2 separate regions of the Homo sapiens genome follow, and region 2 is linked to region 1. Evidence: fine-mapped expression QTL. A gene starts in region 1. The other region holds a variant in brackets. All regions are shown on one strand. Distances are between the middles of the regions.

Region 1 (5,372 bases):
TCTGTAAATGGGCATCGTGACAGCTTCCATCTTAGTGTTGGTGAGTGGACTGGGTAAAATACAGCACCAGACCTAGCACACAGTATATCCTCAGTAAATGGGGACATGGCCGGGCATGGTGGCTCATGCCTGTAATTCCAGCACTTTGGGAGGCCAAGGCGGGCGGATCACCTGAGGTCAGGAGTTCGAGACCAGCCTGGCTGGCCAACACAGTGAAACCCCATCTCTACTAAAAATACAAAAATTATCTGGGCGTGGTGGCACCTGCCTATAATCCCAGCTACTCAGGAGGAGGCTGAGGCAGGAGGCTCACTTGAACCCAGGAGGCAGAGGGTGCAGGGAGCTGAGATTGCGCCACTGTACTCCAGCCTGGGCAACAGAGTGAGACTCTGTCTCAAAAATAAATAAATAAATAAATAAAAATAAATGGGGACCATCTATCGTGGTGCTACTTTAATGAAATTATGCAAGTCATGTCTCTGAACCTCAGTTTTATCATTTGTGAAATGGGGATAATAAACCCTATCTACGATGAGCAGAAAATGAACGGATGTGTGCTAAAGTACTCAGCACTAGGTCTGTGCACCTTAGCCAGTCAAATACCATATCCCAAGTGCAATGGAAAGAGGAAAGGCTGTGAGGCTGGGCAGGTGACTTCGGATTCTGCCCCCACCTCCTCTCAGCTGCCCCAGGACACAGGCTTGACCCCCGTGTGCCTCAGTTTCCTTGTGCACAAAACCAAAAGCATTTTCTGTCACAGAAGACCAACGGGAGATTCACACCCCCTAGAACGGCTCCCAGCACACAGCCCCTTCTGCTCCGCAAAAGGGAACTTCCTCCCCATTTCCCTCCTCTGCCCTTGTTCAAACCCACCAGAAATGCCACCAGTTAAAGCCAGGCGCTCCATTTCTGGAAACCCAAACAGCTCTAAATCCAGACCAACCTGGGTCTAAGGCCTTCAGTCTGAGACTTTATTTTGTGGAGATACAAACTACTTTTTAGTCATTTCCGAAGCAGACGGGACAGCAGAGGCTGACAAACCACAGGGACCATTTTAAATCCTGGGCCTTTTCTTCTGGGAAGTTAGGCAAGAACCTTCCCAAATGTTTGCCCGTCAGGCTCTCTGCCAGGGAGTGACTCATTCCACGGCTCCCCACAGGCATATTTTATTTGGGGGTGGGGGACGCAGCGAGGGCTTGGCCTTGATGGGGGAAGGAGAGGGGGCATTTCCAGCAAACCCAGAAGGTGTTTTCTTTTTTTCATTTTCAGGAGAAAAAAGAAAAAGAATGTGGGTCTTTTTTGCTTCCTTCCAGGTTTTGTTTGCTAAAAGAAGACGTCCAAAGTTCATTCGGTAAGCTCAAACTCGCTGAGTCCAAACTCGCTGAGTCCGGGGCAGGCGCTTCCAGACGGCTCTGCGTCCCTTTCAATGAAATTCTTCTTCCATTAACGACAGGGTTTTTAAACGTGCCTCCAAGACCTGCCTGCACGTACTGTACACCAAACTAAGGCGACATTTTCCCCCAAAAAAGGCAAGCTGAATTTGGAAAAGTCAGACCAACTAGGGAGCTCTGGAATTTCTAAAGTTTGCCTTAAAGCAATTAAGACTTTCAGCTGCAAAGATTTTCAACAGTTAGAGAGCACGCACACACACAAAAGCCTGTCAGTCAAAACTGCAAGGACAGACCTCGGAAGCTGGTGTCCCAAGCCCGCTGTGATCAATTTGTTACTGTCCTGGGATTCACACTTGGAGCCTAGGAGAGGTATAAATAAATCAAAAGATCCGTCTACTTAGCAGGGCAGGCAGAGAGGCCCCCACATACACAGGCAAGTCTAGGGTCAGCCCCCCAGGCCTGGCTGGAGAGAGACAAGAACAAAGACAGGAGAGCCTGGAGGATATTTAGGAAAACACACGTCCTCGGGTGCCCGGCCGAGGGGCCCACCACAGCCTCCGCTCGCCCAGCCTGTGTATGCAGAGAGGGTCCTGCCAGTGGCCCTGCCGCAGCCTGGCTCTAAGACCTTTGCCTCTGTCAGGCCCAGCCAGGCTCTGAGTCTGCCCTCCTGGCCCCTGGTTCACCGGATCAGGCCCAGCCCCGACCCCCAGCCCATGCCAGGCCGCTTCTCTCTCCACGGGCTCCCTGGCTCGGGGGCCATCACTGTGCAAAGGCCTGGTGGGCGCAAAGGGGGCCGGCCCCTCAACCTCAGTAATAAACACGCTCGCACGGCCCTGCACACTCGTTATACTCACACCCACACAGGCATACTTTCGCCCTTCTAGGCTCACGCATGTGCTTGCACACAAATCACTTTGGAATGCACACACGTGCACACACACACTCCCTGAGACCCGCACGTACTCCCTGCGGCGCCCGGCACACTCCTCCGCCCGTCGTCCCCACTCGGGAAGTGGGTAGCGGGGAGCCATGCCCGCGTCCCCGCACGCACTCACCCCAACAACGCCACCAGACGCTCCGGGGTGCACACGCACACCCGCCGGGGACGCGCACACCCCGGGACACGCGGACACGCCGCCCCCGCCCGCCCGGCCGCCGACACGCTCAGCCCCGCGCGGCCACACTCGCGCCCGCCTCCCGCTCTCCCCCGCGGAGCCGTGGGCGCGCGCCCGCCCTCGGCCCGGCTGGGGGTGACGGCCCCGCCGCCCGGCCCCCGCCCTTCTCCGGGCCGCGGGGCCCCACCGGCCCGGCCCCAGCCCCAGGCGACTCACCGGCGCGCGGGCGGGCTCGGCTGCCGCTGGGGGACCGGTGCGCTGGCCCGCGGGCGGCTGGAGCGGTGCGTCCCACACGAGTTTGCGGCGCAGCGGCCGCACGCCCGTCAGCTCGGTTCCGCCGCCGCCGCCACCGCCTGCGCGGGCCCGCGCGCCCGCGCGCCCGCCCCTCCCCGCCGCGGGGCCGCGCCGCCCCCAGCGCTCGTGCGCGCTGCCGCCACGCAAGCTTGAGGGGCGGGGGGCGCCCCGGCGGCGTCCTTCCTGGGCCTGGACCCCTCGACTCCGCCGAGTTCTGCGGCCGATCCGCTCGGCCGAGGAACCCCTTCCCCATTTCAGAGATGGGAAGACTGAGGCCCAGACTCACAGGGCGCAGGCCGGCGTCTCCCCATCTTCTCCGGCTCTAGACTTATGATGAGGGTCTGCAGTCAGCCAACCCTTGGACTCCTGTGCGTCTTCGGATTCCCCATCGCCTAGCATTGCTCCTACCACAGCCCTAGTCATACTGAAATTGGCACAGTAACAAGCACTTATTGTGCACCAGCTGAATGCAGGCACTGAAGTAGGCTCCAAGAGTATTCCGATGAGGGGAAGGCCCTGCCCCCTGCCCTCAAAGTGCCAGCGACTCTTCATCTGGAGCTCCCACTTCCTGTGGCCCCCGGGGGACCAGCAAGAGCCAATGTGCAGAGGTTTCTGGAAGTAGTAAAAGTCCCCACTAAAGAATGTTGAACGCCCCCTCTAGAAGTCAGAGCCTCCCTGAGACCCAAGCAGCTCAGTTCTCACTTCACCTCCTCCCCGCACCGAGAGCGGCCGCTCCTGGCTGGGCTGTTTCCACCCCTGCTGCCTCCCCTCCACATTCAAAACTGTGCTGCACCCCAGGAGGGCTGGAGCCAGGGACACTGACTGCCTGCTTGGGCGCAGCACTGTACTGGGCACAGGGTGAATGCCCGTCTGGCTTCTGTTTGCCAAATGAGTGGAAGTGCTTCAACTGGCCGTGATCTGTAATAATGACACCAACGGAGCGTCCACCACGTGTGCCAACGTTACCCTTGTGCCCATTTTACAGATGGGCTTTGAGGCTTAGAAATGAAATTTCAGGCTGGGTGCGGTGGCTCACACCTGTAATCCCAGTACTATGGGAGGCTGAGGTGGGAGGATGCCTTGAGGCTGGGAGTTTGAGGCCAGCCTGGGCAATATAGCAAAACCCCATGTCTACAGAAAAATGTAAGAATTAGCTGGGTGTGGTAGTGCCTGCCTGCAGTCCCAGCTACTCGGGACGCTGAGGCGGGAGGGTCTCTTGAGCATAGGAGTTAGCAGCTGCAGTGAGCTATGATCGCACCACTGCACTCCAACCTGGACAACAACAATAAAAAGCAAATTCTTTTGTTCAAAGTCACCCAGATGGTAAGTGGTTGAGCTGGAAAGTGCACGGCAGATTGTCTAATTCCAGTGCCTGTGTGGCCAATCACTAGGCAGCCCTGCCTCAGGAACAGCATAGCCCTGGGCTTCTGGAACAAGAGGGCAGACGAGGCAGCAGCTGGCCCACAGGAGCGGGCCTGGTCCCAGCTCTTGTGGATGAAAATGCAGACATCACAAACCAATGGGGAGGAAATGGATTGTTCTGCAAATTGTTTAGCCGTTTAGCTGGAGATCTGTTTACAGCCTTGCCTCCCATGATATACACCACAATAAATGTCAGACAGATTGAAAAGTTAAATAGAAGAAATAAACACTGCAACAAATAATAGAAAGAAATCGAAGTTCTGAGACAGCGTATTGCAGTGTTACTAGAGGATTTGTGATACTGGCCATATTCATGCAGCAAACATTAGTTCAGTCATTGGTTCACCCGACACATCTATGAGCACCTTCCATGGGCCAGGTACTTTTCTAGGCACTGGGATAAAGGAGTGAACAAAATATGGCCCTTTCTTGGGGCTTCAGTCAAGGGGGAGGGATGGGGTGGGAGGAAGACACTGAATATCTGCCATTTCAAGGATAAGAAGTTTGGGCCGGGCGCGGTGGCTCACGCCTGTAATCCCAGCACTTTGGGAGGCCGACGCAGGCGGATCACAAGGTCAGGAGATCGAGACCATCCTGGATAACACGGTGAAACCCTGTCTCTACTAAAAATACAAAAAAATAGCCGGGCATGGTGGCAGGCGCCTGTAGTCCCAGCTACTTGGGAGGCTGAGGCAGGAGAATGGCGTGAACCCGGGAGGCGAAGTTTGCAGTGAGCCGAGATCGCGCCACTACACTCCAGCCTCAGTGACAGAGCGAGACTCTGTCTCCAAAAAAAAAAAAAAAAGAAGTTTGGTGGAGAAATAACTCGGAAGGGTAGGAGGACCCAGGGGTGCTTTTTTATAGGGGGTGCTGGAAGAAGGCCTTTCTGATGAGGTGACATCTGAGCAGAGGCCTGAATGAGGGAGTGGGAGAAGTCAGTAGGGGCCCACTGTGTGGAGGGCAGGTCCCATGTTCTGGCAGCTATTCAGTTAAGCTACAGAGCAAGAACCAGAAACTCCCTTTTGAAGGAAACTTTGAGAGCCGCACCAGGCCACTGGGAGGAAAGGACTGCCCCCACCCCCAACACACAATATCTATGTAAGACTTTACTGCTTGCAAAGCCCTTCCCCAGCTTCACAGAACCCGTATG
Region 2 (5,372 bases), 33 kb after region 1:
AGGGTTTTACCATGTTAGCCAGGATAGTCTCAATCTCTTGACCTCGGGATCCGCCCACCTCAGGCTCCCAAAGTGCTGGGATTATAGGCATGAGCCACTGTACCCAGTCTATTCTTCTTAAATAATATCCTATGAATATGTTTTTCACAGTATCACATGGGAACTTTAGCTTTTAGACTGATTGTTTTTAAAAACCTCTGAAAAAAAGTAATTTTCTGTCTTATCAGAACTTTAGCATCTGAAGGATCCTTTGAAGATTTTGTTAAATGGTCAACTCAACCAATTATCCAAATTTACTGCTTATCTCAAAATGTATTTCTCTTTTTTTTTTTGAGACTGAGTCTTGTTCTGCCCCACCGGCTGGGGTGCAGTGGCATGATCTCGGCTCACTGCAACGTCTGCCTCCTGGGCTCAAGTGATTCTCCTGCCTCAGCCTCCTGAGTAGCTGGGACTATAGGAGTGTGCCCCCACGCACGGCTAATTTTTGTATTTTTGGTAGATATGGGGTTTCACCGTGTTGGCCAGGCTGGTCTCGAACTCCTGACCGCAAGTGATCCACCCACCTCGGCCCCCCAAAGTGCTGGGATTACAGGCATGAGCCACTGTGCCTGGCCTAAACATGTATTTCTTTTAATTATATTTTTATATTTTGATTTCACTTTCAAAAAATTTTACATGCATTTTGTTCTGCAAGACTTAACAATGAAAAACAGCTGTCTCCTGTCTAATCCATCTTTGCTCCCAGTTCCCAACCATCAGAGGTAACTGCTTTTTAACAAGAAACAAGTTTCTTTTTTATTTGCCTTTATGCTTCCACTGTTATCACATGTCTATACCGTTATTTCTGGACTTTCAGTTTTATGTATAATCTACTCTCTTCTTACTTTGGAAGATTAGAATTTGCTTCCCATACCACGCTGCCCCTACTTCCCCTGGTACCATCTTCCTTATATGATCATCTCATCTCATAATTTTTGGTTAGATAAATATTGGGGGTTTATTTTGTGGCCATGTGAACAGTGTTGATAGCCCAGCAATGTAGAGTACTGTGATTGCATTTATTCTCTTGTGCAGCTTTCTGTTTTTCCTAGAATTGTTCATTTTCTGTCTATTTATTTATTTAGAGATAGGCTCAAGCTATATTGCCCAGGCTGAACTGGAACTCCCGGGCTCCAGTGCTAAGCTAATATCCTGTTCTTCACTCCATTTACATCCCTAGTTTTAACCTGGTTCCATCGATGTTTCTTACCTGAAATAATAATTATGATCATATTTGACAAAGGTGGTTTTCCTTCTTTCTGTATGATTTGACATTCTACTGTCAGGAAAAGCTTTCTCTTCTGTCCGGTTACTTATTCGTTTTTTTGTTTATAGCAGTTGGAGTCAGGGGTTTCTATTTTATTCAGTGGGTTATCATTCATTGCTATCATTATTAATTTTGATTTTTCAATTACACCAGATTTGGTGTGGCCCCATCCAGCTGGCCCCTGTGTCCCTTTGACATGTCCACACTATGCTTTGAATGCTTAGTGACTTTTTGCCACAACAAGGTGTTCCAGGTTCATCTTGTTCTTCCTCTCTCCCAGCCAGGACTCAGCCTTCCTCCAAATGGCATTTTGAAAACAAGATCTTGGCACTGGGTATGTTCATTGCTACCAGAGCATTGCTGCTCCCATACCTTCTTGGTGAACAGAGCTGAAAATACACACACACACACACACATCAAATATGCATATATGTATACACATATGCATGCAGGTGCATATACATGTATATATATAGACACACCTTTCTGTCTATATTCTCTCTCTCTCCACATAAACACAGATTCTCACCATGTGTTCTCACTGAGAGCTCCAACTCCAGCCCAACACTATGGGCTTCTTCAGTTTCCTCCTTTTTTTTTTTTTCTGAGACGGATTCTTACTCTGTCACCCAGGCTGGAGTGCAGTGGTGTGATCTCGACTTACTGTAACCTCTGCCTCCTGGGTTCAAGTGATTCTCCTGCCTCAGCCTCCTGAGTATCTGGGATTATAGGCACACGCCACCACGCATGGCTAATTTTTGTATTTTTTAGTAGAGATCAGGTTTCACCACGCTGGACAGGCTGGTCTTGAACTCCTGACGTCAAGTGATCCGCCCGCCTCGGCTTCCCAAAGTGCTTGGATTACAGGTGTGAGCCATTGCACCTGGCTTTTTT[T/G]TTGTTGTTGTTGTTTTGTTTTTTTTGAGACAGAGTCTCACTCTTGTTGCCTAGGCTGGAGTACAGTGTCACAATCTCGGCTCACTGCAACCTCTGCCTCCCGGGTTCAAGCAATTCTTCTTCCTCAGCCTCCTGTGTAGCTGGGACTACAGGTGCACACCACCATGTCTGGCTAATTTTTGTATTTTTTAGTAGAGACGGTGTTTCACCATGTTGGCCAGGCTGGTCTTGAACTCCTGACCTCAGGTGGTCCGCCTGCCTCCGCCTCCCAAAGTGCTGAGATTACTCGCGTGAGCCACCGCACCCAGCTGGTTTCCTCCTTTCTGCATCTGTGCCTCCCTGCCTCATCAAGGAGAAACCTGAATCCTCTTGTCCATGCTAAGCTATACCTCTGCTCTGCCCCGGTGCATACCCATCTTTGATTGCAGCAGGCTGCCGCCCAGGTCCAGCCTCACAAGGGCCACTGTGACTGTCATCCTCGAGCCTCATGATTTTGACTGGATGCACTGAGAAAGGTAGGCAGGCAGGAGGAAGAAAGGAAAGAAGGGAGAGATACAGAAAGGCAGCGAAGGGGAGAGGGAAAAGACAGGCAGGCATGGGATGGGTTTTTAAAGCTTTAGAAGATTTCTTGGATTTTCAGGAATGTTCAGTTTGTCTCTACCCCATGTCCCTGATGCTGCCACTGGAGGGGAACAGAATAGAGATCTAAGCCCAGTCTGGGCTGCAGGTCCCAGAGGTGAGAGGGATCTGAAGGCCCCAGATCCTGACCCCCCGTAGCCATGATGGCCTTGCTAATTCATTTCATGCACACAGTGGGAACTTTTACAAATTAAAACAAAATGAAAAAAAGCTCACTGGGGTGGCTCATGCCTGTAGTCCTAGCACTTCAGGAGGCCAAGGTGAGCAGATCGCTTGAGACCAGGGGTTTGAGACCAGCCTGGGCAACATGGCGAAACCCCATCTCTACAAAACATACAAAAATTAGCCGGGTGTGGTGGTGCATGCCTGTGGTCCCGGCTACCTGGGAGACTGAGGCAGGAGGATGGGTGGAGTCCGGGAAGTTGAGGCTGCAGTGAGTTGAGATTGCACCACTGCATTCCAGCCTGGGTGACAAGAGCAAGGCCCTGTCTCAAAAATAAATAAATAAATAAAATGTTTTAAGTCGGGATAGATTTGTTAAGCTCAATGATCTGGTGATATGGCACAGTGACCCTTTGACTAACTGACTTAGCCACGGTAGGTGTGGAAAGGGAAAGTGGTCTCTACTCACGGGCTCTGGGGTCCCTTCCTTTTGCACCCACGGTAGCTCTGCTCATTTGCATTAGTACTGTCTGGCTTTGGATTATATTTCTTTTGATAAAGGGTTTGAAAGAAAACTGAGCTGGGCGCGGTAGCTCACACCTGTAATCCCAGCACTTTGAGGGGCCGAGGCGGGCAGATCACCTGAGGTCAGGAGTTTGAGACCAGACCGGCTAACATGGTGAAACCCTGCCTCTACTAAAAATATGAAAAAATTAGCTGGGTGTGGTGGCACGTGCCTATAATCCCAGCTACTCAGGAAGCTGAGGCAGGAGAATCGCTTGAACCCAGGAGGTAGAGGTTGCAGTGAGCTAAGATCACGCCACTGCACTCGAGCCTGGGCCACAGAGTGAGACTCCATCACAAAAAAAAAGAAAAGAAAAGAAAGGAAACTGAGCCTGAGTTCCAGTCCTCCTGGGCCTCCTTGCTGGGTGACCCTGGGCAAGCCTTTCCTTCCCTGAGCTTCAGTTTCCTATCTGGGAAAGGACAGGTTGGATGCTGAGTTCTGTGCATCTCAGTGTCAGGTGTGTTGCACACATAGCTGGGGACCAGCCACCAGTGCCCAGGGAGGGCCACCAGTTCCCCAGGCAGGGGAGGGAGGAACCACTTTCCCCACCCTCTTCCAGAGAAACAGGTCACTGGCTGGGCTTGGGCCTGCAGCCAAGGGGAACTCAGAGACAATAAGCCCAAGTCACCCAGCTGGCAGGTTGTGCAATTTCCACCAGCGCCTGCAAACAAGATGTTGGCCCCTGAACTTTGGACTCTGGGCAGCCTTCTCCCCACCCCTCAGACCTAAACCACCCAGTTTAGGGGACAAGGCTGGGGGTGGGCAGGGTGCTCACTTAGTTCCAAGGACAGCCAGGTGGCTCTGGGCGCCTTGAAGAGAGAGGGTCCCACCAAGGAGGGTGTCAGAGCACCTGGCTGTGGGGAGTCAGTGGAGGAGGCTGGCCATTGGGGAACTGTCAGAGTGTGTGTGTGTGTATGTGTGTGTGTGTCTGTGTCTGCATGTGGACAGGCGGCACCTGTGAGCTGAGTTGCCTCTGCCTATGCATGGAGCCATGGTTACTCTCAGGGGAGTGACATCAGCAGATTGTCGGATGCTGGATGCTGCTTTGTGACTGCAGGGTGGTCCATGCACGAGTCTGTGAGGGTATGATGTGTGTCCTCGTGTGTGAGTCATCCTGGCTATTGATAGGCGTGTGTGTTATCTGTTTGCATGCATGTATGTAATGGGGCCCATGGCAGAGTGCAGATAGGTGAGACTGCACACACGTGTGATTCTGTGGGGGCACGTGCAGGTGTGTGGCTCTGATTGTGTGCCGATGAGTGTGCATGTGGGTGTAAATACACGCATGTGTGCACAATGGTGGGTGGGCATGTTTACCATCAAGGATACGTGTGTGTGTGTGCATGCCTGTGTGAGCCCCATTTGCTGGGCCTGTGGTCTCTGTGGTGGTACTATGGTTTGTAAACACGCATGACCTCTTTACTACACATGAGTGCAGGTAACATGGATGTCCACGCAAGTGCCAGTGTAGGACCCGTGTCCCTGGAGCTTTGGCCCAGCTTGTCACACGCTTCACCCCCTGTGCCCCTACCAACCTGTCAATTACTTTCATGCTTCCAGCAAGTCTCTATTCTGAACCTCAGTTTTCCCATCTGAACTGCATAGGAGGAGGTTGGACTGGATGAGCCCTCAGGCTCCTCCTACCTGTGCAGCGACTTGGATACCGCGTCACAAAGAACATGCAAACATGAGGAAAGTGAGAGCCCAGAACGCCTAGAATTTACCTCAGTCCCTGGCTGAGGGACAGGAAGCTTTGAAGTGACAGATGAAGCTAGGGACCCAGATCCTGGGATAGGGCAGGCCCAG

Which allele goes with the higher level. Positions count from the first base shown, and alleles are read on the strand shown. Sizes are in standard deviations (SD) of each study's normalised expression.
In carriers of allele T in region 2, the expression in monocytes of the gene that starts at base 2,859 in region 1 tends to be higher than with G alone (large effect, 0.88 SD a copy in Fairfax 2014).

Evidence for each region. PIP is the estimated chance that this variant, and not a neighbour inherited with it, causes the effect. A credible set is the group of variants that fine-mapping cannot tell apart.
Region 2: its variant is the best candidate, but not a certain one, in a credible set for the expression of NEK6 in monocytes (Fairfax 2014, PIP 0.79).

The regions. Positions count from the first base shown.
Region 1 is chr9:124,255,436-124,260,807 of GRCh38, reverse strand. NEK6 (NIMA related kinase 6) reads right to left here and starts at 2,859. Exons shown (of 10, transcript NM_014397.6): 1 at 2,723-2,859. It overlaps LOC613206 (a long non-coding RNA gene), which reads left to right. Exons shown (of 2, transcript NR_149024.1): 2 at 1,314-1,598. RefSeq lists an enhancer at 1,297-2,242 and silencers at 2,280-2,649, 2,710-2,839.
Region 2 is chr9:124,222,369-124,227,740 of GRCh38, reverse strand. No RefSeq gene overlaps it. Among named protein-coding and RNA genes, the nearest start is that of NEK6, 33 kb to the left of the region's middle. The variant T/G (reference allele first, on the strand shown) is at 2,201.